Linked DNA regions of Homo sapiens: regions 1 and 2 are each linked to region 3. Evidence: fine-mapped expression QTL. A gene starts in region 3. Each other region holds a variant in brackets. All regions are shown on one strand. Distances are between the middles of the regions. Region 1 overlaps LOC107987065 (a long non-coding RNA gene). Region 2 holds the start of LOC105376043 (a long non-coding RNA gene). Region 3 holds the start of IGFBPL1 (insulin like growth factor binding protein like 1).

Region 1 (10,704 bases), 44 kb after region 3:
CTGATGGAGCGAGCCTGAAATGCTGCCCTACCATCCATGACAGCAGGGCAGATCTGCCAAGGAGGGCGCAAAGGCTTTTTGGATCCACAGGGCTGATGCCTAGGTGACCAGAGTATGGGAGCTGCAGTGAGCGCTGATTACCCTTGCTTTCCACTTTGCCTCTCTGTCTCTAGCTAGTTCTTTCTGGTTCAAAGACAGTTTCCCCAGCACAGTCCCTTGTCAGGCCCAGCAGTGTCCACATCAGCAAGCATCTGCCACTCATCATTCCTTCTTTCACTCAGCTCCTGTTACTGCTGACCCACCTATGCCAGGCCCTGCCGTGTGGAGACAAATAAGACATCATACCTGTCCTCTGGCAACTCACAGACTGGGGAGGCAGACAGACATGGAGACTGGCATGTTTCCCTCACACAGTGTGAGAAAGAGAACCCAGAGAGTGGTGCCAAGAGAGCAGAGAAACAGGAAATGGGACAAAACAACTACACAAAGCCTGGGAAGGTCAGGGGAGGCTTCTTGGAGGAGCTGATGCTTGACCTGATTCTTGAAAGCTGAATCAAGGGGAGAAACAGCATTTCTGGAAGACAGAGCTGCATGTGCCAAAGGTCAGAAATGAGAGGGAGCCCTGTGGCTTTGGGTGCAGTAAGAACCTCCTCCTGGCTGGTGCCTGGGCTGTGATGGGATAAGTGGGGGCCATTGAGAGCCAAGTCTGGAGCCATAGATCATGCCAAGATCATGAAAGGCCTGAAGTGCCTTGCTAAGGAGTTTGGATGTATCCTGAGGAGGCACAGAAGTGACACAGGATGCTTCTCAGTCACTTTGCCAGCTGGGACCTCTGGTCAGCGATGTCCCCCTTGCCTGGGCCTCTCTGGGTCCCAGGCCTGCCGTTAGAGACACCCTACCCACTTGTCCCACCTGTGTTATAGCTTGTACCTGTGTTCAGCAGTTCTTGAGCTCTTGTCTCACATCCAAGAAGAATGAGGACATGCTGACAGTAGAAGGGTGAGGATGGGCAGAGAAGAATTTTATTGAACAATAGAACAGCTGTCAGCAGAGAGGGGATGTGGGAATTGGTCCCCCAGCCCTGCAGCTGGGTGGTTTCTCTCCTCAGTGTGGCTGGGTCTGGGGCTTTTTATGGACTCAGAATGGGGAATGCGTGTTAATTGGTTTGTGAGCATGCAAAAAAGGTTAAAGCGAAGACACCACCCAAAGGAGGGCATGAGAGTGTAGAAAACCAATTAGAAAAGGGTAGGCTTGTGTAAAATAGGTGAAGGGTGTGATCAGTCAGAGGAAGGTGTGCCAAATGGGAAGACAGGTTCTCAGTCTGGTCCAAGGATCTAACTTGTAGCTTGGCTTTTAGGCTTTGAACTGTCTTTGGCTTGGAGGTGGGATTTCACTGGGGACCACTCCTATCTGCCTAGGCATTTGGCTGCCTCCTGTCAGTATCAGAGGGATTTAAGGCATAAGGGTGACTTGGTTAGATGAGAACCACTTGATTTCCTCAGATCCTATGGCAGTGAGTGAGGAGTAAGTTCAGCTCTGAGTAACAGAGACTCGTATAAAAATGGCTTACATAAGATGGGAGTTGATTTCTCTAAAAAAGTAAAGGAAGCCCAGAGGGAAGCAGGTGAGGGAGGTGGCTCAATGATGCTCAAGGAGGTGGACCCCTTCCAATTCCCACTGGTCACCCCTAGCAGGGGAAACTGTCTTCATGATCCCAAATGGCAGCCACCACATCTACATTCTAGGGATCAGAAGGCGGGTGGGAATGAAGAAGACAAAAGGGCAAAGTGTGCATGCCTCTGGCTTTAGAGGAAGGCTCCCCAAAGCTAACCCCCAAACAACTCCATTTATATCCCATTGGCCAGAACTTACCTACATGGTACAACTATCTGCAAGGCATGCTGGGAAATAGAGTCTTTAGGGTGGTCAGAATATTGGGGCTTTCATTTCTGTGGCTTGGTGGGAAGAGAGACACTGGGGGCTAACTAGGAGGTTCTGTCACAGACCCCTCCAACTCTGCTATGAGGAAAAGATTACTGGCTCTGGTTGACAGATAAGGACACTGAGGTTCAGAAAGAGAAAATTACTCACTGGTAAGTGGTGCATCTGCAATTGCAAAGCTTGGCTTGGAATTCCACACTCATAAAAGCACTAGGCAAGCTAGTGGAGGTGACTGACTTTGCACTGTCTCCCCTCTCCAAATCTGATAATCTGATTCTAAAGGTCCCCCCATAGGTGTGCCTCAGTGAGTCGTCAAGGAAGAGCAACCCCTGCCTCCCCAATTCAAGCAATTCTCCTGCCTCAGCCTCCTGAGTAGCTGGGACTACAGGCGCATGCCACCACGCCCGGCTAATTTTTGTATTTTTAGTAGAGACGGGGTTTCACCATGTTGACCAGGCTGGTCTCAAATTCCTGACCTCAAGTGATTCACCCCGCTCAGCCTCCCAAAGTGCTGGAATTACAGGCATGAGCCACTGCACCTGGCCAAGTTTCTCATATGCTTCTGATATATAACCATATTTGGGAAGCACTGGCCTAAGTGGTTTCTGAGGAGTCTTTGACTCCGTCATGGTTATTTCCAGAAAGTGACTTCGCCTGCAAATGTGTTGTGTCTAGATTCTATCCAGCATGACTACCTTGACACTTTCTAAGCTGTGACTGGCATCAGAACTCACCAAAGTGGTCCTGTTGCAAGGTATTTACCCCCTCAAAAATAAAAAGTAATAAAAAGAAAACCTTCCACAGTGCTTGACATTTATGGTTTGGAGAGAAGAACCAACGTGCAGTAGCTGAAGGTAAAATGCACAAATTATTTTTGCAGAGGGTTGACTATTTTCCAGGAATGTGATGGATTGGAATGCCACACTCTTAAAAGCACTAGGCAAGCTAGTGGAGGTGACTGACTTTGCACTGTCTCCCCTCTCCAAATCTGATTCTAAAGGTCCCACCATAGGTGTACCTCAGTGAGTCATCAAGGAAGAGCAGCCCTTTCTTTTTTATTTTTGAGACAGAGTGTTGCTCTGTCACCCAGGCTGGAGTGAAGTGGCACCATCTCGGTTCACTGTGGCCTCCGCCTCCTGGGTTCAAGTGTTCTCGTGCCTCAGCCTCCCAAGTAGCTGGGATTACACATGCATGCCACCATGCCCAGCTAATTTTTGTATTTTTAGTAGAGACGGGGTTTCGCCATGTTGGCCAGGCTGGTTTCAAACTCCTGACCTCAAATGATCTGCCCGCCTCAGCCTCCCAAAGTGCGTGAGCCACTGCACCCTGCCTGAGCAGCTTTTTCCTGAGAGGATTCCAGGATGGTTGTTCCCACCCCTGGCCTTATAGAATCAGGAACAGATCAGGAGAAAGGGGGTCCTTAGAATTTCTGGTCCAACATCACCATTGTATAGATGAGGAGACTAAGGTCCAGAGAAGGGAAAGACTTCTGTAGATCCCACAGGGAGTGAGTGGGAAGGTCTGGATAGGGTCCAAAGTGAGAGCCCACATATAGTCCAGTCTTAGTTATGGCTCACCTGGTGCTACGTGTGGGGTTTGGACAACCTTTTCAGCTAGACTGAAGCCTCATTAAGGCCTCTGCTACGGGTTGGTGAAAGAAATTGCCCCAGTGTTGGAATAACAAAGATGCTTCCCGTTGTCTATCTGTTCACACGGATTATGGGCCATGGAATACTCCTTCCCTGGAACAGAGAGACAACGTGTGTGAGGACGAGGATAGACCCACAAAGGAGAGAGGGCACAAGGTGCTGTGGGCAAAGCCCCCAGCTGGGGACTGGACCCCAGGCTGTCTGACTCACCATGAGCCCTCTGGGCCCAATTATCCTCACGGTGAAGGGATTGCACTAGATTACAGACTAAGCCAGGTGCAAGGGAGCTGCTTACCGGGCCCCCACCCTCTGGTGGCCCCTGAGGAAGCTCCAAGGGGCCCGGTGGCTCCAGGCTTTCCTAGATCTGCCCCTGGGCTGATGCCTGGACATGTTCATGAGGAACGGGAAGGAAAGTGATCAGGAGCAGGAGCCAGAGAGTGTGGCCTCCACCCCGTCACGAAGGGTCCTTCACAGGAGGATGGTTGGGCTGGGTCTGTCCTCCCAGGCCCAACTTCTTGGGCCAGAAATACCTGTTAGAAATGAAGGTAGAAGCAGACAGATCAGGGCTCACCGGCTCAGAAATGGCTCCACTCCCAGCTGCACTCCTGTTCAGTGAATCCAGGCAGGCTGGATTCTGCTGTTAAAGGATGGGAGAATCTCCTCAAGAAGCCTCTCTCTAGGCTAAGAAGGGCTGGAGCCTGTGCAGGGGCCCCAGCCCAGGCCCAGGGGTGAGATTTGATATACTGAGGAATGGAGCATGGGCACAAAGCCTGGCTGTAATTCTGTGCTCACCCTAACCCTAACCCTTGTGATCTGGTTGGCCATGGTGAGTCATGCGGAAGTTCAGGGGGTCCCAGGCCAAGGGCCGTGAGGACAGAGTGGAGGTGGCACCTAGGGGCTCAGAGAGGGGCTGCTTACAAACTGGTAGGTGAGCATTTTGTATTAAAGTACCCGTATGGCTGTACTAGGGCTTTTCCATGGAAAACGAGTCTTATATTATCATTTATGACTGAGCCAGAGGGGTTCATCCCTGTGATGGGAAGAATATGAATTAACAGCCTTGTGACTCTGTACAGAAGAAGAGCCTGAACCCCAAGGAGGGTCAGGGTCCGTCCCAGGCCAGGCAGGGAGACTGGCAGGGCAGGGCAGGGCGGGGTGGAGTAGAACCCCAGGCTGTGCATCTGTGGCATTTGAGGTGCAATTACTGCCTGCTGGGGACAGATCAATGCCTCTAATAGACATGTTTATTTAGGGAATGAAAGGCTCTTTCACTCTTACCGAGGAGGAGTCA[C/T]GAGGCAGCTGAACAACCCTCCAGCTGACCAAGGCTGGCATCTCAGATCACATTCCACCTGTCCCATGATGGGAGGAAGAAACCGGTGCACTGAACGGGGCTGTTTATTCACCAAACAATGTTTGCAAAGCTGCTGAATCATTATCTTCTTCTTATCACTGTTCTCTCCTTCACAGAGCATGGGGCTCCCTAGTGTGCAGGCTTCAGGCCTTGCAAAACCTGGATCCTCCCTGCTTGTTTTCCTGATTGCTGCTCTTTGGAAGCCCCTGAGTTCCATTCCCAAAGCTCTCCTGAGCAACAAAGCCATTTCTTCCTCCGGCCAAAGACCACCCCTGGAGAGCACAGGAGAGGAAAAGCAATTATTTTCGAAAACTCAAAGGCCTCCTCTTCAGGAAGCCCTGGAATCCATAGTAAACAAAGTTCCCCATCTTATCTGTGAGAAACCTGAAGGAGGATTTTAAAATTCTGGTGTGCCTGTCAGAGCAGAATACGTGTAAATAGGCAATTTCCTGCAACCTTAAGGCACGCTGGGAGGCAGACACTTACCAAGGTGACATTGGCCCAGGCGCCTGTTCTGTGCTTTGAATGTGGCACTAGAATCCCTAAACCAAGCCCGAGGGATGCAGAGTTCTGATTAGATCCTGCCTTGTGTCTCCCTAAGGTGTGAAATGCTTGGTTTTAGTGCACCTGAAAAGGTCACTGAGTAAGTGATCTACTGAATCTTTCTATTCATAAGAGGGGATATAGCAGGAGGCACTGAAAGATGATCCAGGTACAGGTGGGGATACTGAGACCCAAGAGGGAAAAGGACCACTGCACATCCACAGGGAGTCAGTCGTGAGTCACAGTAATGAATTGGTGGTTTACTATGTCCTACTCACTTTACAGGGATTACCTTACTTGAGGCTCATCACACCCACGTGGGGTAACCTAACACTGATTTCTATTTTAGAGGAGGAAACAGATTTAGAGAGATAGGGGTGGTGCTTGGTGCTGGCTACATATTAGAATCATCTGGGGCCTTATATTAATAAGTACTGATTCTGGTCTGATTCTTGAAGGTCCATTAAAAACAAGATTAAAATAAAAAGTACTGGTGCCTAAGCCCCTCTCCTGAGGCCAACTTGAATTCTCAGGGTAGGCCTTAGCCATGGGTATAATTTGAGGTGCTCCAGGTGATTCTAATATGTAGCCAGCGTTGAGACGATGGGGTTGCAGAATTTGCTCAAGGTTACATGGCCAGTGAGTGGTGGATTCTACCCCGGGAGGTCTGACTCCACTAGGCCTCACCTGAGCATGCTGGAAATCAGTGCAACTCATTACCCTGCAAAAAGTATCTGCTCCCCTTAACATCATCTTCTGTGAGCCTGAAACCTCTAGTACATGCAGCTCTGGGACCACAGGTGTGCTTTCTTTCCTGCTCTAAACTCTCCTGATGGTACCAAATGGATATGATGCAGGGTATTCCTTTGCTATTGTTGCTGTAACAATTGCTACAAATTTCCAGTTCAAAACACACACGTCCAAGGAAAGGTGCAGTGGCTCACACCTGCAATCCCAGCACTTTGGGAGGTGGAGGCAGGTGGATCACTTGGGGCCAGAAGTTTGAGACCAGCCAGGCCAACATGGGGAAACCTCATCTCTACTAAAAATACAAAAATTAGCCAGGCGTGGTGGTGCACGCCTGTAGTCCCAGCTACTCAGGAGGCTGAGTCAGGAGAATTGCCTGAACCCGGGAGGCAGAGGTTGCAGTGAGCCAAGATCGAGCCACTGCACTCCAGCCTAGGCAACAGAGTGATACTCTTGACTCAAAAACAAAAACCAAAAACCAACCCCTCCCCCCCACCCCCCACACACAACCAATCTCTTGCAGTTCTAGAAGTCAGAAGTGTGAAATCAGTTTCACTGGGCCAAATTCAAGGCATCAGCAGGGCCCTGCTCCTTTCTGAGGCTCCAGGAGAGAAGACATTTCCTTGCCTTTCTCAATTTCTAAAGCTGTTTTTCTTGGATTCCTTATTTCATAGCTCCTTCCCCTCTCGTCTTGCTAGTGTTACATTGTCACCTCCTTCTTCTGTGTCAAATTTCCCCCTCCCTTTTCTCCCCACCCCCCTTCCTTCTCTCTCTCCCATCTCTTCTTCTACTTTGTGAGGACACAGCAAGAAAGGGAGAAGGCAGTCATCTGAAAACGAGGAAGACAGCCCTCACCAGAAACTGACACTGTTGGACCTGAATGTCTCCATTCAGGTTCCACATAACCATCTGTGATCTAACTGAAGGCCATTGGGCCAAAAACACGTTGGTTGATATCAGTTTGGTCTAAGTAAAATTTTTTTTTAAAGAATGTTGTAGCCAGCCTCCAAATGGTTCCCAGTGAACCCTGCCTCCTGGTATTCCCAGCTGCCTGCATTGTGGGGTTCCCTCCCACACTGTATCAGGGATGGTCTGTGTGACCAACAGCATATGGTAGATGTAGCGGTGGTGTGCCCGGAATTGGTGGGTTCTTTGCTCACTGACTTCAAGAATGAAGCCGTGGACCCTCACGGTGAGTGTTAGTTTTTAAAAGTGGCGTGTCCGGAGTTTGTTCCTTCTGACATTCGGATGTGTTCGGAGTTTCTTCCTTTTGGTGGGTTCGTGGTCTCGCTGGATCAAGAGTGAAGCTGCAGACCTTCGCAGTGAGTGTTACAGCTTTTAAGGCAGCGCCTCTGGAGTTGTTCATTCCTCCTGCTGGGTTCGTGGTCTCACTGGCTTCAGGAGTGAAGCTACAGACTTTTGCGGTGAGTGTTACAGCTCATAAAGGCAGTGTGGACCCAGAGTGAGTAACAGCAAGACGTATTGCAAAAAGCAAAAGAACAAGGAACCCACACCATGGAAGAAGACCCGAGCCAGTTGCCACTGTGGGCCCGGGCAGCCTGGTTTTATTCTCTTATCTGGCCCCACCCACATCCTGCTGATTGGTCCATTTTACAGAGAGCCGATTGGTCCATTTTACAGAAAGCTGCTTGGTCCGTTTTGACAGGGTGCTGATTGGTGCCTTTACAATCTCTGAGCTAGACACAAAAGTTCTCCACCTCCCCACTAGATTAGCTAGATACAGAGTGTCCACACGAAGGTTCTCCAAGTCCCCACCAGAGTAGCTAGATACAGAGTGTCAATTGGTGCATTCACAAACCCTGAGCTAGACACAGGGTGCTGATTGGTGTGTTTACAAACCTTGAGCTAGATACAGAGTGCCGATTGGTGTATTTACAATCCCTTAGCTAGACATAAATGTTCTCCAAGTCCCCACCAGACTCAGGAGCCCAGTTGGCTTCACCCAGTGGATCCCACTCATACTGGTGCCGCAGGTGGAGCTGCCTGCCAGTCCCAGCCGTGCGCCCGCACTCCTCAGCCCTTGGGTGGTCGATGGGACTGGGCGCTGTGGAGCAGGGGGCGTTGCTCGTCAGGGAGGCTCCGGCTGCGCAGGAGCCCATGGAGGGGTGGAGGAGGCTCACGCATGGTGGGCTGCAGGTCCACAGCCCTGCCCCGAGGGGAGGCAGCTAAGGCCAGGCGAGAAGTCGAGCGCAGCTGCTGGCCCAGGTGCTAAGCCCCTCACTGCCCGGGGCTTGCGGGCCACGGGGCCTCCGAGTGCGGGGCCCGCCGAGCCCACGCCCACCCGGAACTCCCGCTGGCCCGCAAGCGCGCAGCACGCAGCCCCGGTTCTCACCCGCGCCTCTTCCTCCACACCTCCCTGCAAGCTGAGGGAGCCGGCTCTGGCCTTGGCCAGCCCAGAAGGGGGCTCCCACGGTGCAGCGGCGGGCTGAAGGGCTCCTCAAGGGCGGCCAGAGTGGGCGCCAAGGCCGAGGAGGCGCCCAGAGCGAGTGAGGGCTGTGAGGGCTGCCAGCAGGCTGTCACCTCTCAGTGGTATGTCCTATCCAAGATTAGATGATGAAAGATTGAGGCCCATCTTGGGCTTTTTTCTCTGATCTCTCACTCCGGGAAGCAAGCTGCCATGTGAGTCTGGAGAGGCCCACCTGGCCAGGAATGGAGGCCTCCCTCCAGGCTGCCAGCATCCCCTTGCGTGCACTTGGAAGTGGGTCCTCCAGGCCAGGCAAAGCTTCGGGTGGCTGCAGCCCTGGCTGACAGCTTGATCCAAATCCCACGAGAGACCCTGAGCCAGAACCAGCCAGCTAAGCCACTCCTGGATCCTGATGCTCAGAAATTGTTGTTTAAAGTTGCTAAGTTGGGGACAATCTATTAGGCAGCAATAGGTAGCTATTACAAGAGATACTTTCAGTCTCTTTTCTAGTATTGGTAATTTTTAGTCCCTCCAATGAGGCACTTTGCCAACTTTTCAGTAACTCAGAGCACTTTTTTCCACTTTCCGGAAGTGTGCAGAGATTCATTTTCTCTTTTAAAAATGTTCAGCTTATTTTCAGCCACTGATCTCTGCATTCCCATGTTCTAATATTAAACAAGGCCAAAAGAGGATGACTTAGAATGAACTGATGTCTGAAAATGAAGAATTTGCTGGGACAAGTGATGTGGCTTATCATTGGGCTTCACTGACATTGAGGGTGAGGTGCAGAAGGGACCATGAGGACCCTCTGGGCCAGCAGTACTCAGAGGGTGGTCAGAGATCGCCTCTCAAAATCATGAGGACTTGAGGCTCATCCTCAGACATGCCCACTTGGAATCCAGAGGGGTGGATCTTGGAGTCTGCCTCCTTGACGAGGGGCCCCGGGGATTTTCCCCGGTACCCTGACCCTGACCCTGACCCCGACCCCGACCCCTGCTGCAGGCCCACTCTCCTCTGTTGTTGAAAGGAAGTCTTATCCGCTCAGGCTGCCATAACAACATACCACACACTAGAGAGCTTAAATAACAGAGTCCACAGCTTAAATTTATTTTCTTGCAATTCTAGAGGCTGCAAGTCCAAGATCGAGGTCCAACAGTGTCAGTTTCTGGTGAGGGCTGTCTTCCTCGTTTCCAGATGACTGCCTTCTCCCCTTCTTGCTGTGTCCTCACAAGGTAGGAGAAGGGGTGGTAGAGAGAGAGAGAGAGAGAGAGAGAGAAAGGAGGGGGGTGGGGAGAAAAGAGAGATGGAGCCGCCATCTCATGCATATACATGAGATCCTAAGGTTTGGCATATTTTTCACATGAAAAGCAGGATGGTGAAGTGTATATTCAAAAGAACATTGAATTTCAAGCTTAAAGACCTGGGGTCTCATCTCACTTCTCCACTTAATCTTTTGTGATCCTAACATTTAAAAACCTAATTTTTCTGAGGCTCAATTTCCTGGTCTGTAAATTAGGGATAACAATACTCAACTCTCAGAGTCATGATAAGGACTAAAAGAATGAGAGCCACGGAAGGTGACCAGCACACTCAAGGACATACACAGGCCCCCATCCGTATTGGTTGAGGATGGAGGATGGAGGAGAGAGAATCAGCCCCAGCCTGGGAGCAGTGGGAGCAAAGGCCTGGGGTAGGAAGTGCACGGTAGGGGCGGGGGACTGGGCAGAAGGCGGTGGCTGGAGCTTAGAGCGTGTGAGGGGTCAGCAGCTGTGGGCAGGATCTGCAGGGACTTCGAGGGAGTGATGGGCTCTGCTGTTTATTTGCACGCCCACTCGGCTCCCACCCAGATATGTCCCCCAGACCCCCCACCCTATGCCCAGAGCACTTGTCCTCCTTGCTCTGAGGGGCGCTTGACTGCCTTGGACCCCCTTCCTGTCTCTCCATTTCTCTGCAAGAAAGTGGACCCCTCCTTTGTCTCTTTCCCATCTCTTCTTTGCTGTATGCTAAGGTTAAGCTGGACCAGAACAATCCAGAGACCAATGAGGATG
Region 2 (10,704 bases), 430 kb before region 3:
TATTGCAATTTATTTTGCCCTAGATAACTTCCTTTGCAAAGATGTCAGAGAAAAGGGAGAAGGCAGTATTAACAGACAAATTACAAAATGTGTTACAAGTAACATACAAATATGTGCAAAAGTTCTTTCATTTATTGGTTTATTCACCTTTATGCAACAATTATTGAGCACTTACTATGTGCCAGGAAAGACTTCACAGGACAAGATCTCATGGACAATATATCCTAGTGGGCAAGACAGAAAATAACAGATAAGTAAATATATAAAATAATTTTAAATAGTGATGTATGCTATGAAGAAGATAATCTTATGTTACTGTCCTATCTTGGTAATTTAGCAGTCTCAAACTTTATGAAGCAGGTATAAAGAAAGGCTAACTTACGTGCTTTCATCTGAATCATTACATCAAATGATTGAACCAAGAAAAAGCCTTCCTCAGTTGGCTTCTTCATGAAAGTGACCACATCCTCCTTTCATGGAAACCGTTGGACTCACTCACTGACAGGATTTGACTTATCCTTCATGAATGTTGAAAATAAAATTACAGTTTTTTTGAAGTTTAGGAAACAAAAAAGAGTTTATTCAAGAAATAATGCCTGTGATAAAAAGAGCTCATTTGCACCATTTCTACCTGATTCTGAGTAGGCTAGTTAATGTTTTAGAAATTGCATTTGGGACTCAAGCAAAGCCTTTTGAAATTTAATGTTCTGTATATTCATAAAAGCATAATCAGATGTGTATTATTATTAAAAGTTCCTCTCATGGTTTTCATTTATGGTAAACGGCAATATGAAAGGACATAAAGAATACAAATTGATAAAAAATTTCCCTTAAAAAAAAAAGATTTTAGGATCCCCTTCCTCCTGCAAGACAAGTAGTTTCTGATGAGATTTGATTGACACTATGAGGTCTATGCACCTGGGTTGATATTCGTGTCTGTTTTTGCAATTAGAATACGTATTAGTGCTGACAAGCCTGGAAATTCTTCAGCACTTTAAAAGAAGCACAATTTTAGTCTTGCAAAAAACCTAATTATAATAAACAAAAAAATTATAGCTCTGATCATAGTAACCAGGTTGCAAACTCCTACCCAATAGTAGGAGTTTCAAACAACCTTCATTTAAGTTATTGTATTCACTTCACAGAGGAAAGAAATAGGGCAATTGAGCATTAAACAGTGTTGCAAATATGACTGGAAAACCTCCACCTGATTCAAGGGAAGTGTCTGTCCTCGGTGAAATGGGAAGATTGGTCAGGGGCCTATCCCCCTCTTGGAGGTAAATGAGGCCAAGTATTAATATTATTCTAAGCAGGTGGAGGTCTTACTATATTAGTCGGATAAATTCTAAAAATTAGGTTTATGCTTTAATGAGCTGCAGAAGGTTTGATTTTTTTAATGCTTCAACTGATCTGAATTCCTAACTCACAATACAGAATGGTCTTATGAAATGTCCCTATTCATAAAAGGTGCGTATTTCAATTTCTAGACAATTCATTAGACATTCTTCTCTGTTTAATCCATAAAAATAAAGCCTATTTCATCATGATTTGGATAATTTTGCAAAGGACGATGAGGCATCCCAGAGCTGGTTGCTTGCATAAACTGTTTTCATTTTCATGAATTTGTAAATAAATTACTGCCTGAACAACCAGACTTTTATAAGTCTTCAGGGTAGCTGTATTTAAAAAATTATACATAGTACTCTGACAGTACATTTCTCTAAAGGAAGTCAGAAAATTGTTCAAAAAGTATTTGGATTCAGCTTCTAGGACGTATTTAAGGTAGCAAACCTGCCCACCACCAGAGTATGAAGTAAAACAAGGCTAAGAGTGATAGAAGCATTTTTTTTTCTTTGAGATGGAGTTTTGCTCTTGTTGCTCAGGCTGGAGTACAATGGCACGAAGTTGGCTCACTGCAACCTCCAACTACTGGGTTCAAGACATTCTCTTGCCTCAGCCTCCCAAATAGCTGGGATTACAGGTGCCCACCACCATGCCCAGCTAATTTTTGTATTTTTGGTAGAGACGGGGTTTCACCATGTTGGCCAGGCTGGTCTCAAACTCCTGACCTCAGGTGATCCACCTGCCTTGGCCTCCCAAAGTGCTTGGATTACAGGTGTAAGCCACCACCCCCTGCCAATAGAAGCATTTTTTAACATGAGAGTCATTTAAAATTGCATGAGATCCTACCACGTAACAAACGCTGCATGCGTGCACTTTATGGGTGCATTCACATATGGCACCTCTTCCAAAGGGCATGCGATTTGGATTCCATGAAATTGAATGTTGCAAACTCATCAAAATGCAACCTTTAAAACTAGTTTTCCAAATGAAGAAACATCATAATACAATTTTATAGGCCGATGTGGAAAGGCTGTGTTAAAGACTGAATGCCTGCTCTCTGACACGTTCATCTTGTCAAGGCTTCCCAAAGGCACTGCAGACTTTGCAGCTGTATTAGCAGTGATTCCTTCGTTTGGAATGCCTGTTCCCATGCGCACACACTCTTGCTGCAGCCACATCATATTTAAAATCTGCCCTGATCCTCCTGGTTGACATCAATGTTGTCACTCCTCTTCATTTTCATAGCATTAAGCCCTATTTTGTACTTAACAGAAAGTAAGTTCGGCACAGAGGGAAGAGAATTGGGCCTATTTTGTTCATATCCCATCTCTGGAGCTGAGCATAGTGACAGGTACACAGAAAGCTCTCATCTGGTATTTTGAATACATTATAACATTTTCCCAGTCTTTTCAACATATTGTCTCAGCACTGGTGGGGGAAAAATGCTGCAAAGGCCATGCTTTTCCAGCCTAAATCTTCCCCAGGACTGGCACAGTGAGTGGCACATAGTAGGGGTATTAGTCCCTGTGGCTGCTTAACAAAGTATCACAGCTGGGCTGCTTAAAATAACAGAAATTTATACTTTCATAGTTCTAGAGGCCAGAATTCCAAAATCAATGTGTTGGCAAGACCACACTTTTCCTGGAGTCTACGGGGGTGGACTGGTTCTTTGCCCCTCCCATCTTCTGTTGGCGTCCCTAACTTGTGGCTGCATTACTGCGGTCTCTGCCTCCATGGGCACTTAAGTTCCTCCTCTCCTTTCTGTGCTTTCTCCCTTTGCCTCTCTTTTATAAGGACACTTGTGATCATAATTCAAGGCCACCTGAATAAAGAAGGTTCGTCCCCTCATGCCAAGATCCCTAACTTAATCACGTCTACAAAGACTCTTTTGCCAAACAAGGGAACACTTCCCAGTCCCAGGGATTAGAATCTGAGATCTTTGGATGACCATCTCTCAATCTACTACGGTAGACGTGGAGTAAGTACACGGAGTTTTACCAGTACAAGCACAGTGATACATGATCTGTTGGTTGATTCCATATATCTTGTTTTTGATGCTGTTTGCCAAAAAATATCAAAAGATCACAGCTCTTCTGCAAGGCAGTCATTTAAGCAGAGAAATAAATCCACTGTAACGGTGTTATTTCTCACTGTTGTTTTCTTAGCTGAGTGGCTGGTTTCTTAAGCATAGCCACAGCATCCGATGAACCCTAGAATTTCTGTTGCATTTGCAATCATCTCTCCAGTCACTTGGGTCCTTCTGCACTCGCTTCCTGCTCTGACTTATGTGGCACCATTCCACCATGTGGCAGGACTCCCCATCTTTTTTGTGGCACTGACACGATAGGACACTACACATTTCTAACCTTTATTTTCAACAGATTGTTCCCTCACTCAGCATAAAATTTCATCCAGCATTCTCATCACACGGTGAGGGTTCACTGATTTCAATGGTGTATGAAAATGCAGCTCTGGGCTGGGTGCGATCCGAGCACTTTGGGAGGCCGAGGCGGGTAGATCACGAGGTCAGGAGATCGAGACCATCCTGGCTAACACGGTGAAACCCCGTGTCTACTAAAAATACAAAAAATTAGCCGGGCGTGGTGGCGGGCGCCTGCAGTCCCAGCTACTCAGGAGGCTGAGGCAGGAGAATGGCGTGAACTCAGGAGGCAGAGCTTGCAGTGAGCCGAGATCGTGCCACTGCACTCCAGCCTGGGAGACAGAGCAAGACTTCATCTCAAAACAACAACAACAACAACAACAACAACAACAATGACAAAAGACTCTCTGTTGTATGTGGCGTCAGAGACAGAAGCAGATGGCTAAACTGGCCTGTGCTGGGATCCCAGCACTAAAAGCCAGATGGTGTGGATTTCAGTCAGATCTTTCATAACCAACAAATTTGAGAAACAGATGAGGCAGGGCCAAGAACTACTAATTTTTTCATTTTATAAATAAGCACCATTAAGCTTTTCTTCTATAAAGCCTCTTGATCTAACCACTAACTAAGCTATTTGTCTGAAATCCTCAAGTCAATGTAGTAAATAAGCATTTACTAAATTTAAATTTAATAAAATAAGCATTTTTTTTCCTCTTTTGGCCAATTTAGTTCTTTAGAAGTTGGGTTAACAGAAGCCAACTTCACCACCGTCAAAACATATGTTTGCTTTTACATAAGTAGAGGCATGCTGTTACTTCTTTTTAAAAATAGTTTAGGCCAGGCGCAGTGGCTCACGCCTGTAATCCTAGCACTTTGGGAGGCTGAGGCGGGCAGGTCACGAGGTCAAGAGATTGAGACCATCCTGGCCAACATGGTGAAACCCTGTCTCTACTAAAATTACAAAAATTAGCTGGGTGTGGTGGCGCAGGTGTGTAGTCCCAGCTACTCGGGAGGCTGTGGCAGAAGAATCTCTTGAACCCAAGGAGGTGGAGGTTGCAGTGAGCCGAGATTGCGCCACTGCACTCCAGCTTGGCAACAGAGCAAGATTCTGGCTCAAAAAAAAAAAAAGTTTAGTGTAGAAAATAGTACTTTCAGATTGGGCTACCAGTGTACCATGCATAAATGAAAAGTGTCCTGTGTCATTAAACAGATGCATTTAAAAAAAGAATTTTTTTACAGGTCCACAAACAAGTTTGAAATTAGAAGGAAATTGTGAGCATTCAAATAATAAAGTGGCTTAATACAATCCAAATAAGCTGAAATGTTCAATTACAGAGTATAATATAGTAAAAATATAGATCCATGCTCTCTCAGTGCAAGCTGTCATCCCATGTCACAGCATGCACTATACGCCCTCTTCTTTTCTCTTACTAATATCTTTAAAGCTGCACTTGCACCCTTACCCTCACACGATCCTTCCTTACTTGCATGCTTTTTTTTTTTTGAGACGGAGTCTCGCTCTGTCGCCCAGGCTGGAGTGCAGTGGCGCGATCTCCTCTCACTGCAAGCTCTGCCCCCCAGGTTCATGCCATTCTCCTGCCTCAGCCTCCCGAGTAGCTGGGACTACAGG[C/T]GCCTGTGACCATGCCTGGCTAATTTTTTTGTATTTTTAGTTGAGATGGGGTTTCACCATGTTAGCCAGGATGGTCGCGATCTCCTGACCTCGCGATCCGCCCACCTCAGCCTCCCAAAGTGCTGGGATTACAGGCGTGAGCCACCGCACCCGGCCTGCATGCATTTTTAAACTGCATTCAACTCTTTAAATTCTTTTTAAATTTTATTTTTTAATTGACAAATAATACTAGAGGCAATGGTAACCATGAATTCTGAAAGAGATGACTGTTTTATTAAGAGCTTTTATTATTTTATTTTTGATCAACATAAAATAATTATACATCTCTATGGGTTACATAGGGATGTTTTGATACATACAATACAACCTTACTGAATTGTTTATCACATCTAATGGATTTTTGGCAGAGTGTTTAAGTTCTTCTATATATAAGATTATGTTGCCAGCAAATAGGGACAATTTGACTTCCACCTTTCCAATTTGAATAGGCTTTATTTCTTTTTCTTGCCTAATCACCTGCATAAGTTGTTATTGGATACCCACTAGATACTAGGCTGTTTGTTCTATGCTAGATGCTATAAGAATAGAAATATGAAAAAAAAATACCTACCACAAGGAATTTTAGTCCCATGGGCCAGCCCTAAGGCAGAGAGCTAGCTATGAGAGATATTGTGAATGGTACTAAGTGGCCAAGGAACACAGAGAACAGAGATGTGAATTCACATTCACAAGGGCTGGAGGAGGAAAGAGGCAACTGGTAGGTACGTGGCATTTCTAGGCCATTTGGTGTTGGTTAGGCTTTGAGTAGACAGATAAGAAAATAAACGGGTTTTCAGTTGGGAGAACGGTATACCCACAGTATGAAGGCAGAAAGACTCGAAGGTTGTCTACCAAACAGCTTTCAGACCAGTGTGATCCAGGAGACTGGGAGAACTCTCTGAAAAAAAAAAAAAAGAAAGAAAGAAACAGCATAAGTCGGATAACAAGGACCAGACTAAGGTTGGAAGTTTATTCATTAGACCCTAGAGACCCATCAAAATGTTTTGAGCAGCGTTATATTAGATGGGTATCAAATACTTCTGGAATCCATTGGTACTGGATTCATTATATTTTAACCACTCCACCAGGCCTACCATTAGTTACAACATGAGAAGCTAAACGTTATATTCTAACCAACACTTTATCTCCAGTTTTTGCAGAGAAAGCAGTCTGAGCTGCTGCTTTGACTCCACTCAGTAGTTTGTGATTAGTCTGAAATGCTCTACTGCACAGAGCAGGGTCAAGCACATTTCATACACTTGTTTAACAAGTAGCACTCAGGAAGTATATTTTCTGATCCACTTCATAGTATCACAATGCAAGCCGAAAACAATGACTGAAGATGGCAAGATAAAACTATTTGTAATGGAAGCAAATATAAGTTATCCACTTTTATTATTCAGTCCTCTGTTTGGATGGAACACATGAATATTAAAATGGCTGTATTTCATTCCTTTTCAAAAGTAGTAAGAGAAGGATAATCATATGCAATAAAGCATTTTCGGCCTGGGTCTTTATGACAGCTCTAAATGCCTGCCACATTTTAAATACCACAGGTGCAAAACAAATGTATAAATTCCCTGTTACATAATTTTCCATTTATATTGTAGAGAAACAAAATACAGTGTAATGGGGAATTTAATTCTCTGAATAGAAATTATATAATCTCAGCAAGAAAATTCAATAACAGCTTCTACACAGATGGCAAAAATCTGCTGAAAGATCCCAAGAGTAATGGAAGACAACTGGAATTTGCATATAAGATTGGATATCACCTTTCCAAAGCCGTGTCAATAATTTAGTTCCAATGTTTTCTGCGTGATTCACTAATTTTATAATTATAATTTTTGGCAGAATATGGGCTACTCAAAATGGTCCAAATGCAAAAAGTAGCTTTAAGCAGAACATGAAGTAATCTATCATCTTTTTATAAGTAAATAAATAATAATCACATTTGCTATTATTCATATGCTTTGCAAGTTTAGTATTTCTTTGTGTCCTGTAACATGTTCCCTTCAAAGTAATGGAAGATGGAAAATAACAACAATGAAAAGCTGGAACGTGCTCAAAATTTTGACACATCAGCAACACCACCAGTTAAATCCACATACTGCACTAAGATATACAGTTTAGTGAACAGTTGTCAGGCAAATCTATTGTGTGAGTGAACCAGCCAATGTGTTCAGCACTCTTATAACAACTAGTTTAGAACATTTTTTGATTGAGTAACCTGAAGACTCTAGGAGACTGAGAAGTGTGCAGAGACCCAGCCAGTAAAGATCTGGGACAGAAATTAAGAACGTTAGACTCCAGGTTGAGTGTTCGCTCCACGACACAGCAGAAGGGAATTGGAAAGACCCTTGTTTTTATAGTATCTTCATTGTCATAGGCTTCCTAAGAAGAAGAGTTCTAGGGGTAAAAGTCACCAAACGCAGAGGGAAAGTAAGTTTTTTTTCAGTGCTTTTTAATTAGCAAACTCAATAATGTTGGCAAATACATATATTCATCCCCTGAGCTGAGTCAACACAATCTAAATGAAAGAGAATCTGGGGGAGCATAAAGGAGGGAGGCTGTGAATTAACCAGCCTGGGGAAGCCTCAGACATCACTGATCAAGGTGGCCTAAGCATCTCCTGCATCCCAGCACATGTTTGGCTGTGGAGACACACTGTTTCAGAAGGCATACACACAACCACCAACAAAAACAGGTCTAGGTGGGTATTTTGCAGGGGAGACTCACAGGGCTTTCCTGCAGTACCATCTCCTCTCTTTATAAAAATTTAGAATCTTGTTCTGATTAGTCCAAACCCACAACCATGCCCTTCTCCCATTTTATCTGTTTCCCCCCCTATTTGGAAATAAATCTTATGGTTTAAATTACTTTGACAGGTAAATGCCAGTCCAGCATCAGCAAACCTGGTGGGTTGCCATAAGCTACTGGCAAAGTGCAACCACCAGGGGCGCCCGAAACCTGTGGAGGCGGAGATTGTGAGTTTGTCAAAAACAAGGACACCCTTAAAGCAGGCGCATTGCTGGGTGTGAAGCAGGGGAGGGGGCTTTAAAAAGGCCGTACCTTGGTCGGGCTCGGTGTTCACACCTGTAATCCTAGCACTTTGGGAGGCCGAGGCGGGCGGATCACAAGGTCAGGAGATAGAGACCATCCTGGCTAACACGGTGAAACCCCGTCTCTACCAAAAATACAAAAAATCAGCGGGGTGTGGTGGCGGGCGCCTGTAGTCCCAGCTACTCAGGAGACTGAGGCAGGAGAATGGCGTGAACCCAGGAGGTGGAGCTTGCAGTGAGCCAAGAATCGCGCCACTGCAGTACAGCCTGGGCGATAGAGCAAGACTCCGTCTCAAAAAAAAAAAAAAAAAAAAAAAAAAATCCTGTCCTCTATATATTGTCTCTTTTGGGATTCCACGAAGATGACATGCTAGTGTGGGACTGGGTCTCACCTCTCACCTGAAACTGGGAGCTGGAGGTCAATAGTCGTAACCTGGAAGTGCTGGCTGGCAAGGTTTTGGAGCAGGCTCATATAAGGGTGGTTGGAAGGTGCACTTCTTGAGGGTACGGCTGCTACAAAAAAAAATACAATAAAATGCAATGCAATATTTGGGACATACTTATACTAATTAACAGTATTTGTCATTTATCTAAAATCCAAATTTAACTGAGTGTCTTAAATATTCATTTTCTAAATCTTGCAACCCTACTTGTGGTAGAGTGGGGAGGAGTCACAAAAAAAGGAGGTTAAAAAGTCTCCGGGTCTGCTGTGTCGGAGAAACAGAGGTTAATACAGCAAGAGTCTGGGCTGGAAGTGGAGAAGTGGCTGAGATAAGAAGGCCCCTTACCTGACTGCCCTGGATTTAGGGGAATGGATGCTTCACAGTCTGCCCTGGGCATAAGAGTCAAGCAACATTCCTATGATAACCTGAAGAGTTCCATTTTTAACATACTGAATTTTGGATGGTGCAATTAATATCTGTTACACAGTTACCACATTGCAGTGTATCGATCATTTGCACTAATATCTAATTAAATTGTAAGTTCTGGCATTTTATCTTTCCATACCCATATCCTTGGAAAATGCTAGGTACATATTTGTGCTTGCTGATTTTTGAAAAAAAATTCAAAAAATTTTTTAACACATTTACTAATTAACCATAAACTCAGTATCAACCAGTGCTAAAACAGGGAAGAGGGCATGCAGCTACCTGGATATGGCACACAGCTACCTGAACAGACAATATTACAGGAAAGGCAATATACATGGAAAGTCTCTTCTCTCTGCACAAAAACGTATCTCAGAAAATAGTTTTTTCCCTGAGTTCCTGGCTCTGACATTAACAAAGGCAGACTGAGGGTGTCCCAGGTGACATACAGGATGGTGGGGGCTACTGACGCCTTTTCATGTGTAGAAAGATTAAAAGAAGGAAAGACAGGCCGGGCGTGGTGGCTCACGCCTGTAATCCCAGCGCTTTGGGAGGCCGAGGTGGGTGGATCACGAAGTCAGGAGATGGAGACCATCCTGGCTAACATGGTGAAACCCCATCTCTACTAAAAATATGAAAAAATTAGCCGAGCGTGGTGGCGGGCACCTGTAGTCCCAGCTACTCGGGAGGCTAAGGCAGGAGAATGGCATGAACCCGGGAGGCAGAGCTTGCAGTGAGCCAAGATCGTGCCACTGCACTCCAGCCTGGGCGACAGAGGGAGACTCCGTCTCAAAAAAAAAAAAAAGGAAGGAAAGAGAGAAGACAGGAATTAGGAGGTCGTTAGAGACTGTGACATTCACCTGCCAGATCCAGATCCAGGTGAATCTGACTCTTTTTCCAGAAGCCCAGTTTTAAGCATTCAAAGTGCCCAATAATGCAAGACAGCCTCGCAACGGTAACGGGGACCAGGGCTCCTGGCCACTGGAAAAGCTACAGCTGATTCTAGGGGAACAGCCAACAGAGATGTAATACATACCTGCATTTGGGAGGAAGCGAGGACCAGGCATCATTAAAGGCTTGTCTACATTTAAGTGTCTGTGGTTCCAGATGAACCTGTCCCAATGCTTCCCTCACCATTCTCTCTTCCTCAAATCAAGATGGACATAAAACTGAATCACCTCATTACTTACCAAACATTACAGTGAAAGTCTCACTCACCCTCATAATTACTTAAAAAAACCTGCACTTACATGATTCTGAATGGGCAGATAAAAACATTGTATGTTCTGGCTTTATCAGAGGACTGAGGTTAAATGTGACAAGAACAAGCTCAGCTCTGCCCGGGGGATGAAGGGCCTGCCTGTCCCCCACACCCCGGGG
Region 3 (10,704 bases):
GCAACTGCCTTGGGTGATCTTAACACAGGGTCCTTAAGCAAGGGAAAGAGAGTCTTCTCAGACATGACAGGCAAGCTGCTTCCATTGGCAAAGGAAGCTCAGAATGACTCAAGGGTTCAGGATTCTCAGCTTCATCTGAGTCCACCCAGATTTCTCCATTCCAAGTCTCAGGTTCTCATTCCCTAACTTTCACATAAGAGACTGGAAAGCCTGTGAATTCAACTTATAATTATGCAACACACACAATTACATTTTTTGTGTCATTTTCAGCAATACTGACCCTGTAGCTGCAAGAAATGTATTCTTATTTATCATTTAAATAAATAATTTGTATGATTATTGAAGCATATTTATAGTTAAGCTTTCTAGTTCTCTGATTGTGACCCATCTTTGACAGTTGTTTCCTGGGACCACTCCTGGTTCTATTAGCTAGATCACTCAGGCCTACCTAGTCAGATGACAAATAGAATTCATTTCTCTTTTTTTCTTTTTCAGGCATGCAACAGCTCTGTTCCCCAGGCTGGAGTGCAGTGGCTTGATCACAGCTCACTGCAGTCTTGAACTTCAAGGCTCAAGTGATCCCCCTACCTCAGCCTCCTGGGTAGCTGGAGGCATGTACCACCATGCCCAGCAAACTTTACATGTTTTTGCTAGTAGAAAAGAGGTCTCACTATGTTGCCCAGGCTGTTGAAGTCCTGACACAATCCTCCCCACAAACCTTGGGAGGTACAGGGATTACAGGCATGAGCCACTGTGCCAAGCCTACAAATGGAATGTAATATAAAGAATTATTGGGCCAGGCATGGTGGCTCACGCCTCTAATCCCAGCACTTTGGGAGGCCGAGGCACGTGGATCACCTGAGGTCAGGAGTTCGAGACCAGCCTGACCAACATGGCGAAACCCTGTCTCTACTAAAAATACAAAAATTAGCTGGGCGTGACAGCATGCACCTGTAGTCCCAGCTACTCGAGAGGCTGAGGCAGGAGAATCGCTTGAACTCAGGAGGTGGAGGTCGCAGTGAGCCAAGATAATGCCACTGCACTCCATCCTGGGTGACAGAGTGAGACTCCGTCTCAAAAAATAATAATTAAAAAAAAAAAAAGAATTATTGGCTGGGCACAGTGGCTCATGCCTGTAATCTGAGCACTTTGGGAGGCTGAGGTGGGCGGATCACTTGAGTTCAGGAGTTCAAGACTGGGATCGACAACATGGCAAAACCCTGTCTCTACAAAAAAAATACAAAAATTTAGCCAGGCATAGTGGCAAATGCCTGTAGTCCCAGCTACTCAGGAGGCTGAGGCAGGAGGATGGTTTGAGCACAAGAGGCAGAAGTTGCAGTAAACCAATATCGTGCTACTGCATTCCAGCCTGGGCGACAGAGCCAGACCCTGTCTCAAAAAAAAGAAGAAGAAGAGGAATTATTAACTAGGCAACTTGGAGGTAGCAACTGTGAAGCAGCTACCACCATGAGGGCTAGGAGAACAATGGAAATGGCTGGAATGACTAAAACTTAGATGCGTATAAGAGGGGTCCTTGGAGCTCAAACTGAGACCTCTGCAGGGTGTGCCACTAGGCTGATGCTAGTGTCACTGAGCTTGGAGAAAGAACCCCAGGGGGGCTGGGGCAGTTCATTCTGGGTGGGCCTGAACTCTAAAATCTTATCAGCACTGTGTGAGCCCCAAATCTCTGCTCAGCTCTCACCTCCCAGCAGCCTCCCTCAAGTCTTGCCCTGTACTTGTGCAGTACAGGGTCAGCCAAAGGTCTAAGACTTGTGGGATTCCCTCTCTGTGGTTCCTCATTTTCTGTCCTAGATCCCCAAATCTCTGCCTTACTCCTGAATTCTGATGTCTACCTCTTCTGTCCAGTGAGACCACTTGGCCTCCACCTCCCTGCAGAGTGGCCTGGAAAGTGTCCCCAGGGAGAATGCTTGGGTAGATGTGGGGCTCACATTGTGTACCCCCTGACGCTCTCAAGGATCACAGCCCTGTATTAGAACACTGTCCAGTGCCTGTCCATAGCTGTTTTCTTTAATTTGTCCAAGTTATATAGTGGTTTACAGCAGAACAGCAAATCCTCTACCATTCTTTTTCGTCTGCTCAGTATCTGAATTCCCATCTTTGCAGAGTTCTACATCTTGCTACATCCCCTTGCATGCAATATTGAAGTGAAATCTGTCTCCCTAAAAATCCCATCTGTCATTTATGGAACTTCCCTCTAGAAATTCACCTTGCCTTCTGCTCTGTAATCGCCCACCAGAGGTCTGGAGAAAGGGCTTTCACCTTCCTTTAGCTTGGAGAAGACTATCTATGATTGCCCTGACTATTAAAGCTTGAGGTTCAAATCCATGGCCTATTTATGGAGTGGCCTTTGCTCAACTGAGCTTCTATTCTCTTCCTCTGTGCTGGAAGCTCCCCAAGGACAGAGAATATCTGCCATTTATCTCTACGTTCAAGGGAGGAATTAATGGATGGGACATTCATACCCACTTCAGCAGCTGCCGGGTGGGCACACATCTGCTCTGAATGGGGGATTGGCTAGTCTTCCCTGTGTTGTGTTTGTTTTCAGGCTGGAGGCTGAAGAGGAAGAAAATCACACCCATTCTTGTTGCCTAATTACTTACCCAGGTGCATGGGATCTCTCCACCTGCCAGACAACAGAGGCACCTCAACCCCCCTTCCCGACTGGGAGAATTTGTCCCTACTTTCTCCTATCATCTTAGGGGGCCCACAGGTGTGGCCCACAGTGTTAACTGGTACTCTGGGAACCAGAGAGATGAAAGAGCACAAATGCCTCTGCTGGGCTATGGGCTTGCAGGCAATTTTAAAAGGAAATAGACATGACTGATCACCTTCAAAGCTTGGGAATGTTTTCTCCACCCAGATACAGGGGCTTTGATGCCACAGGCTCAGTGTTGGAAAATGAGTCTTCTGATTTAATTCTCAAAGAGTCGTTATGCATACATAGTACTCTCCCTACCATTTAAAAGGAATGTAGATCATATGTAAATGCGCCTCTGTGAGATTGTGTATCCTAACCTGCATTAAGCACACATTAATTTCATTATGACACCGTTCACTTACTCCTCCTTTAATGTCTGCATAAAAAGCAGGCAAATCATTTCTGTACACATTTATTTCTCAATCATGACCATGTTTTGTCCAGTCCAGGTCTCAGGGTCGGGCACTGTACTACAGGAATGGTGGCTCAGTTTGAGGTAATCAAACGTCAACTCCCCTGACCCCTACTTCTGACCCCCTCCATGCTCCTTGCCAAGACTCATTCTTAAACTCCTTCTTTGACAAGGACCTCACTATCTCTGGAGCAGCCTGATCTCTCTTTGGACAACTATGAACCATTAGAAAGTCTGAACTTACCAGCAAAGTTGTCCCTGAAAAGCAGCATGGAGTTCGCTTATCTCTTTTGTTTGCAAATCCTGCTTTGTTCATTTAACATTATAAGTGTTTCCTTCTCATAGTGAGACCCCATCTCTGAAAAAAAAAAATTGTTTAAATTAGCCAGGCGTGGTGGTGCTCACCTATAGTCCTAGATACTCAGGAGGCTGAGTGGGGGAGGACGGCTTGAGGCTCAGGAGTTTGAGGCTGCAGTGAGCTATGATCATGACATTGCACTCCAACCTGGGCAGCAGAATGAGGTACCATCTCTTTTTTTTTTTTTTTTTAAAAAAAGGGTTTCCTTCACATCATTAAAAACAATCTTAAATTTTTGCATGTTTACACATTCACATATTTACAAATATGCCATTACATTAGATGTGCACTTTTTAACCGCTATTTTACTAAACAATGTATTATAAACATGTTTTCATTTCTATTAACCCATATTTTCTTTCTAATTGTTAATGCCTGCATAATCCTCTATTGTTAGATGTACCATAATTTATTTAACGATTGCCTCTCGGTGGGCATTTAGGTCGTTAACTTTTTTTATTTTTATTTTATTTATTTATTTATTTTTTGCTATAGTAACCAACTCCAGGATGAAATCTTCACACATAGTGATCATTTTTTTAGGAGAGATTCCTGGAAGAGCACAGAGGGGTCAAGCGGTGAGAGCACTTTAAAAGGCCACTCCTGGTAAAGACAGCAGCCTCCAGGTTGAAAGTCACTGTTGATAGGTTCTGAGAGCTGCGCTGAGTGCATTACCAACATTGTTATATTTATTCCTTACCACCACCCCTTCATGGTGCCTAACCGCCCCTGCTCTGTGTGGCTGATTGTAAGGTAAGGCCTGGCGTGGACCAGGCAGATGGCCCTCCTCTGACCACCACATAAAGTGGCCTCAGAAGAGGCTCCTTTCTGGGGATAAGAAGACTGCAAACTGGGAAGGAACTGGGCTTGAAAAGCAAAATGAACCCCACCCAAGAACGGTGTAGCTGGTCTTCCCAGGCTGCAAGAGGCTTTCTCCATCTCCAGGAGTTCAGCAAAGAAAAAACAATAGAGCACAAGACACATGAGGGGTGGCCAGTAAAGGCAGGAAAAGTCTCCTATAAAACCTGCTCAGCGAGTCCCTCCCTCCATCCAGTGCATTTACCCAGCAACACATCAAATCCCAGCAGCCAAGACTCTCTTAGGTTTCTCGTCTGGGTGCCCTGCCAGAACTCAGGCAGGATGGTGTGCACAGAGCCTGGCCCAGAGAAGGCGCAACGGCGGCATGAATAACTGACTACAAGAAACTGCATCTTTCCAACATGCATTCCCCAGTAAGCCACAGGTACACTGACCCTTGTGCACCAAGACTTCATCAAAGCATTATTCGTATTAACCAAAGGATGGAAAATAAGTGGTTAAATAACTGCAACTAAACCCTGTGGAAAGGCCACTCTGTATGAACTCCAAAATATATCACCATATCTCATCACAACAAAGTCACTGTGGACGGAGATGTACCATGACTTTATGCAGCATTAAGAAACACACTCACAGAGCCAATGAACTATGCTCCCATTGATTGTATAAGAAACCCAGTTTCACAGATGACAAGAGGTGGGGAAACTGTGAAACACTGTAAGTGCAAAAACCAAGTGCAGACTAATGTGTATGGCACGCTACTCTGTGTGTGTGAGAGAGAAACAGAGTGTGTGTGTTTTAAAGGAAGGGGCTTTTTTAGGCACATGTACTTTTATAGGCATAGAGAAAATTTCTGAAAAGATATACAAAAACCCGATAGCAAGAGTGGCCTCTGGAAGCCGAGTTGGAGGATGGGGATACAAGGTGGTAGGGTAACCCTCTTTTCATCCTTAGATGTATATGTAAAATCTACATTTTAAACCATATATTCTCTTTATAAAATAAAACTTTGAAAACTACTGAATGCAAAATAAAATTAAATAAAATAGCGCATCCTTCTGGGAGGATTTACGGGCATACTATCTGGAGCCAGCCTTGGATCCGGAGACCGTACGGTTATCCAATCCTGACTCTGCCATAGCGACCTCGGGCAAGTTGTCGCCCCGACTGGGTCTCGGTTCCCTCAAGAGTCCAATCGGAGGTCGGAGAGCTGCTCTCGGGGCGACCCTCCAGCTCGGAGACCCGGGCCGCGGGCACCGCGCGGGTCCCGGGCTGGAGCAGCGGTCTGCGGGCGCCCCGCGGTGCAGGCCCGGCCAATCAGCGGCCGCGGGGCGGGAGCGGTGACTGCTCGGCGGGCGCGGAGCGGAGCGCGAAGCAGAGGCGCCGCCGCTGTCCCGGAGCAAGCCATGCCGCGCTTGTCTCTGCTCTTGCCGCTGCTGCTTCTGCTGCTGCTGCCGCTGCTGCCGCCGCTGTCCCCGAGCCTTGGGATCCGCGACGTGGGCGGCCGGCGCCCCAAGTGTGGTCCGTGCCGGCCAGAGGGCTGCCCGGCGCCTGCGCCCTGCCCGGCGCCCGGGATCTCGGCGCTCGACGAGTGCGGCTGCTGCGCCCGCTGCCTGGGAGCCGAGGGCGCGAGCTGCGGGGGCCGCGCCGGCGGGCGCTGTGGCCCCGGCCTGGTATGCGCGAGCCAGGCCGCTGGGGCAGCGCCCGAGGGCACCGGGCTCTGCGTGTGCGCGCAGCGCGGCACCGTCTGCGGCTCCGACGGTCGCTCGTACCCCAGCGTCTGCGCGCTGCGCCTGCGCGCTCGGCACACGCCCCGCGCGCACCCCGGTCACCTGCACAAGGCGCGCGACGGCCCTTGCGAGTTCGGTGAGTCAGGGTCGGGGATTGGGTGGGTAGAGAAGGAGGGATTCCAACCCTCTGGGGTGTGGAGCGAAGGATCCCCCTGCCCAGTGGTGGACGGCGCTGCCTGGCACTCAGTTTCCCCTTAGGGAGCAGTATTTCATATCTCTCCTCGTGCTCAGAGAGACTGGGGCGAGAATCCTTGGAGACGCCACTCACTGTGCTAGTCGAATTTTTGGTGAGCCTGCTACCCCTTTTGGTACTTAAGTACCTGCTGATGCAGTCACTTATTTGTAGGCATGGTATGTTTGCCCAGCAGGAGACTGGGAGTTAAGGAGGGGGATCCGAGTTCCCAGGTATCCAGCGCTAGGTGGATTGTTTGAATGGGGAGGAAGGGAAGTTGAGGTTGGGGGAGGAAGGGAAGTAGAGGATAGGGGAGGAAGGGAAGTTGAGGATGCAGGAGGAGGATGAGTTCCAGACTGGGGAATCAGTAGTCACCAGGCCACAGCACCAGAGCACCAGGGCCCCCGGTGTGGGAAGGGGCTGAGCTGGGATGCTGAGGGAGCTCCATCCAGGAGAAGTAAGACCTTTGGAGACGTAAGGTCTGAAAAGATTGTGGTGCTATTAGGGGCAGACTCAGGTTTCGTGCTTCTAAAACATATATAATTTGGAGAGTCCTGCCTTAAGTAAAGGAATAGAACTGCTAGGGACTTAGAAACTTATTATGAAATGCTAGGGACTTAGAAACTTAAGCTTCATTAACATCACAGTAAAATAATCTCTGAGTGCTATAGTTGCCCACCCTCTTTATGTACCTTTTGAAAACCAAACAAAAAGAAACCAAAACGTTAGCACTGCTTTACCGGCTTCCTAAGCATGAGTGTATTCCACCCACTAGGTTTTGAAGTGCCGCTGTGTACTTTGCCTGGAGTGGGCAGTGCTGAGTTTAGGGTGAGTGAGAAGGTGGCCAGTGAGTCCCAAGGAGCCTGGGTTTCGGCCTGGAGTTCAGGCTTCTGGGAAATAATTCTGGCCTGAGCCCAGAGACCAAGTCCAGACTTTAGTGCCTAAGTCAGTGTAATGACTTAGCTTCAAGAAAGAAGCCTGGGGTGGGGTGAGACCTTTCCAAGCCTTAAGAAGTATCTAGTAGTCTTTCCTCTCAAGTAGTTCAGGTAGATGTACCCAAGTCCAGGAGACGCAATGGGTTGTTGGAGATGGGGCAGGAAGCCTCCAGTCCTGGGAAATGTAAAACCAGTGTGTGGCCAGTTGAGCACAGGAAAGTCACCATTGGCTGTTCCTAGCTGAAGCTCCCCATGGAGGACAGAGCTGGCTGGGGGTGCATCTGTGCTGCCGCTGGCTCCCTGAGTGGCCCTGGACGGGTCCCTTCCCCTCTCTGGCCATATCAGCCCCAGTGGAGTCATTGTTGAGGTCCCTTTCACTCGGAACAGTTGGTTTCCGCCCTGTGGCACTTAAACAGTCCTGTCTCTTTCCTTTTGCTAGTTCCTATCACTCGTTTTTATAACTGCTTTCCTCAGCCGTTAATTCACAGGCAATTCTCTTTGTCTCCAGACAGGTAACACTTTTAACTCCACATGCAGGAGACAGAAGAAATGCTGACCAGGTCCTCAGACTATAAATGCTGCTGATGATCTCAGATAATTTCTCCCCAGAGTGGCATTCTCTTCCTAAGAGAAAGGCACCTTAAAGACATTCAGACCAAATCTGCTGTTATACAGAGAAAGAGACTGAGACACAGCAAGGTCAGAGCCCTTGTCCAGGGTGACCAGTAAAGGATGACCAGCTCCCTGGTCCCAACACCCTGTCCAGTGCTCTTTTGGCACAGGACTTAATAGTATTAAGTCAGGCAGATGGTGGTTACCATGGTTACCAGAGTGAGGCCAGATGGCAGATGGAAACTCCATACCCCTAATTCACTGAAAATTACCAAATGACAAGTAAATGTGACAGCCCCTTCACTCTGATCTATGGGATCTGAGGCCCACCCCAGGCACAGACCCAGGGAATAAAGATATTCGTGGGGCCACATGGAAGCAACTCAGAACTGGTTTTCATGATCTCATTACTGACAGGCGTCAGGCCTCCCCGGGGTTCAGCCCTTCTTCCGCACCAGCCTTTGTGTCATCCACCACAGAACCGGGCACTGTTTGCCTGTCACTCTCTGTCCTGAAGTGCTAGTGTGGCCTCTGCCCTTGTGTCCAGATAAAGCATGAAGGTTTGGACAGGGGATGTTTCCTAGCCCAGGCAGCAGCTCATTCTGTGCTGCCCTAAAGCCATCTTTTATTCACAAGACACAGCGGGAGCGTTTTTTAACAATGCCTCTGGGGATCCCGGTTGAAGGAAAACAGACTGTGAGTCAGAGCAGGGCTGTTCTGCTTCAATATTCATGATAAAATCACCCCTCCTGACTCCTTGGGTACCCAAGCACCTAGATTTCATGGAATGAGGCCTCGGGAAGTATTTATTATGTTGTTCACAGTGTGTGAAGGGCCCTTATACATGCCTCTGAGGAGCCTGGGGAAGCAGTTTTCAGGCTTAAATTCTGCCCTTTCCTCCTATGCCCTGAAATGCCCCAAACTGCCACATAATGAGAGTGATCCTTTGATCCGCACACATGTATGGAAGACTCACATATGAATAATTCTTACTGTTGGAAATTGCTTTTGCATCCTTTTTTTTTTTTTTTTTTTTTGAGACAGGGTCTCACTGTATCTCCCAGGTGGAATACAATGGCTTGATCACAGCCCACTGTGATCCTGGGCTCAAGGAATCCTCCTGCCTCAGCCTCCCAAGTAGCTGGGACTATAGGCACATACCATCATGCCCAGCTGATTTTTAGAATTTTTTGTAGAGACAGGATCTTACTGTGTTTCCCAGGCTGTTCTTGAACTCCTGGCCTCAAGCACTCCTCCCACCTCAGCCTCCCAAAGTGCTGAAATTACAGACATGAGATACCATCCCTGGGCTGCACCCATCTTTTTACATGATTTTTACAAGTGTCCTGGGGAGGTCTCCTTCCCATTTGATAGAAGGGAAAGCTGAGGCACATGGAAGGAAATTCCCTGGAGCCACCTGGCTGGTCCCAGCTGTGAAAGGGCTCCAGTGTAGGTTTGCCTGGCTGTTTTGTTTTGTTTTGTTTTGAGACAGAGTCTCACTCTGTCACCCAGGCTGGAGTGCAGTGGTGTGATCTTGGCTCACTGCAAGCTCCACCTCCTGGGTTCACGCCATTCTCCTGCCTCAGCCTCCAGAGTAGCTGGGACTACAGGCGCCCACCACCACGCCTGGCTAATTTTGTTTTTTGTACTTTTAGTAGAGACGGGGTTTCACTGTGTTAGTCAGGATGGTCTTGATCTCCTACCTCATGATCTGCCCGCCTCGGCCTCCCAAAGTGCTGGGATTACAGGCGTGCGCCACCATGCCTGGCCTGCCTCGCTATTTTCAGATGGGCGCTGCACAGCTAGCCGCTAGCAACCTGATCAGTAAGGTGCTGTGCACCCGCCAGCCTTGAATCTTGGGGGTTTCTCAATCTGGGTCCACCTTCCTGTTTTTCCCAAGGTTTGTCACTTGTCCCTCTATTTAGCACTGGGCTATAGCTCCTGAGAGAAGCCTTGAAGGATGGGGAGAGAATCCCAATGCTAGCAAGGGGGAGGCACAGCATGAACTGAGGCTCAGAGGTGGGAGCCCTTTGGTGGGTGTGCAAGTGGGCCCATAGGGCCGAGGCCTGGTAGGATGGTTGGGAAAGGAGATGACACCCCAGAGTAGTTTGGGGTAGGCCACTGCAAGCCTTGGGTGCAAGGCCGAAGGGGGAAGCTTCATTCTGCACTTTGGGAGGCTGAGGTGGAAGGATTGCTTGAGGCCAGGAGTTCAAGGATAGCCTGGGCAACGCAGCAAGATCCCATCTCTACAAAAAATTCTAAAAACTAGCTGGACATGATGGCATGTGCCTGTAGTCCCAGCTACTTGGGAGGCTGAGGCAGGAGGATTTCTTGAGCCCAGGAGTTCGAGGCTACAGTGAGCTATGATCATGCCACTGTACTCCGCCTAGGAGACAGAGTGAGACCCTGTCTAAAAAGAAGAAGAAGAAGGAGGAGGAGGAGGAGGAGGAGGAGGAGGGGGAGGAGGAGAAGGAAGAAGAAGGATGCAAAAGCAATTTCCAACAGTAAGAATTATTCATACGTGGGTCTTCGATACATTCTGAATTATTGGTTCAGCTTCTCACTGGTAAGGTGGTATGGCCTTAGTATTATGATGATTATTATTGCTCTCATTACTTTAAAGGCTGGATAGTTCAGTGTGTGCACCCTATTTGTTAGCATTGGGAGAGGGTTGGGGTCCTACGGACAGCAAGTTAATGTCATGTTTCAAATGATAAATTAGATAGGAACAGGGTCCCGGCCAGCACCCGCCAGGGCATTGAGCCCTGGCAGCTTCGGTGAGCTCCTGAGACCCTGAATCTTAGAAAATTCACCTTGGTTGAAATTCCAGCTCCACTTAGAAACCTAGGTCTGTGCTAGTGTGTGTTACCAGGTAACCAGGAGAGGC

The links.
Region 1: its variant is fine-mapped to the expression of IGFBPL1 in thyroid (GTEx, PIP above 0.99).
Region 2: its variant is fine-mapped to the expression of IGFBPL1 in cerebellum (GTEx, PIP 0.98). The same link has a PIP of 0.9 or more in cerebellar hemisphere.

What each region holds. Positions count from the first base shown.
Region 1 is chr9:38,375,469-38,386,172 of GRCh38, reverse strand. It overlaps LOC107987065 (a long non-coding RNA gene), which reads right to left. Exons shown (of 3, transcript XR_001746670.2): 3 at 4,968-5,213. LOC105376040 (a long non-coding RNA gene) reads left to right here and starts at 9,804. Exons shown (of 4, transcript XR_929605.1): 1 at 9,804-9,888; 2 at 10,665-10,704. RefSeq lists an enhancer at 4,422-5,370. The variant C/T (reference allele first, on the strand shown) is at 4,882.
Region 2 is chr9:38,846,826-38,857,529 of GRCh38, reverse strand. LOC105376043 (a long non-coding RNA gene) reads right to left here and starts at 8,981. Exons shown (of 4, transcript NR_188596.1): 1 at 8,855-8,981; 2 at 6,212-6,291; 3 at 176-224. The variant C/T (reference allele first, on the strand shown) is at 5,355.
Region 3 is chr9:38,419,435-38,430,138 of GRCh38, reverse strand. IGFBPL1 (insulin like growth factor binding protein like 1) reads left to right here and starts at 5,685. Exons shown (of 5, transcript NM_001007563.3): 1 at 5,685-6,174. The coding sequence starts at 5,715. LOC105376041 (a long non-coding RNA gene) reads right to left here and starts at 5,528. Exons shown (of 8, transcript XR_007061487.1): 1 at 5,389-5,528; 2 at 3,376-3,489. RefSeq lists an enhancer at 361-4,640.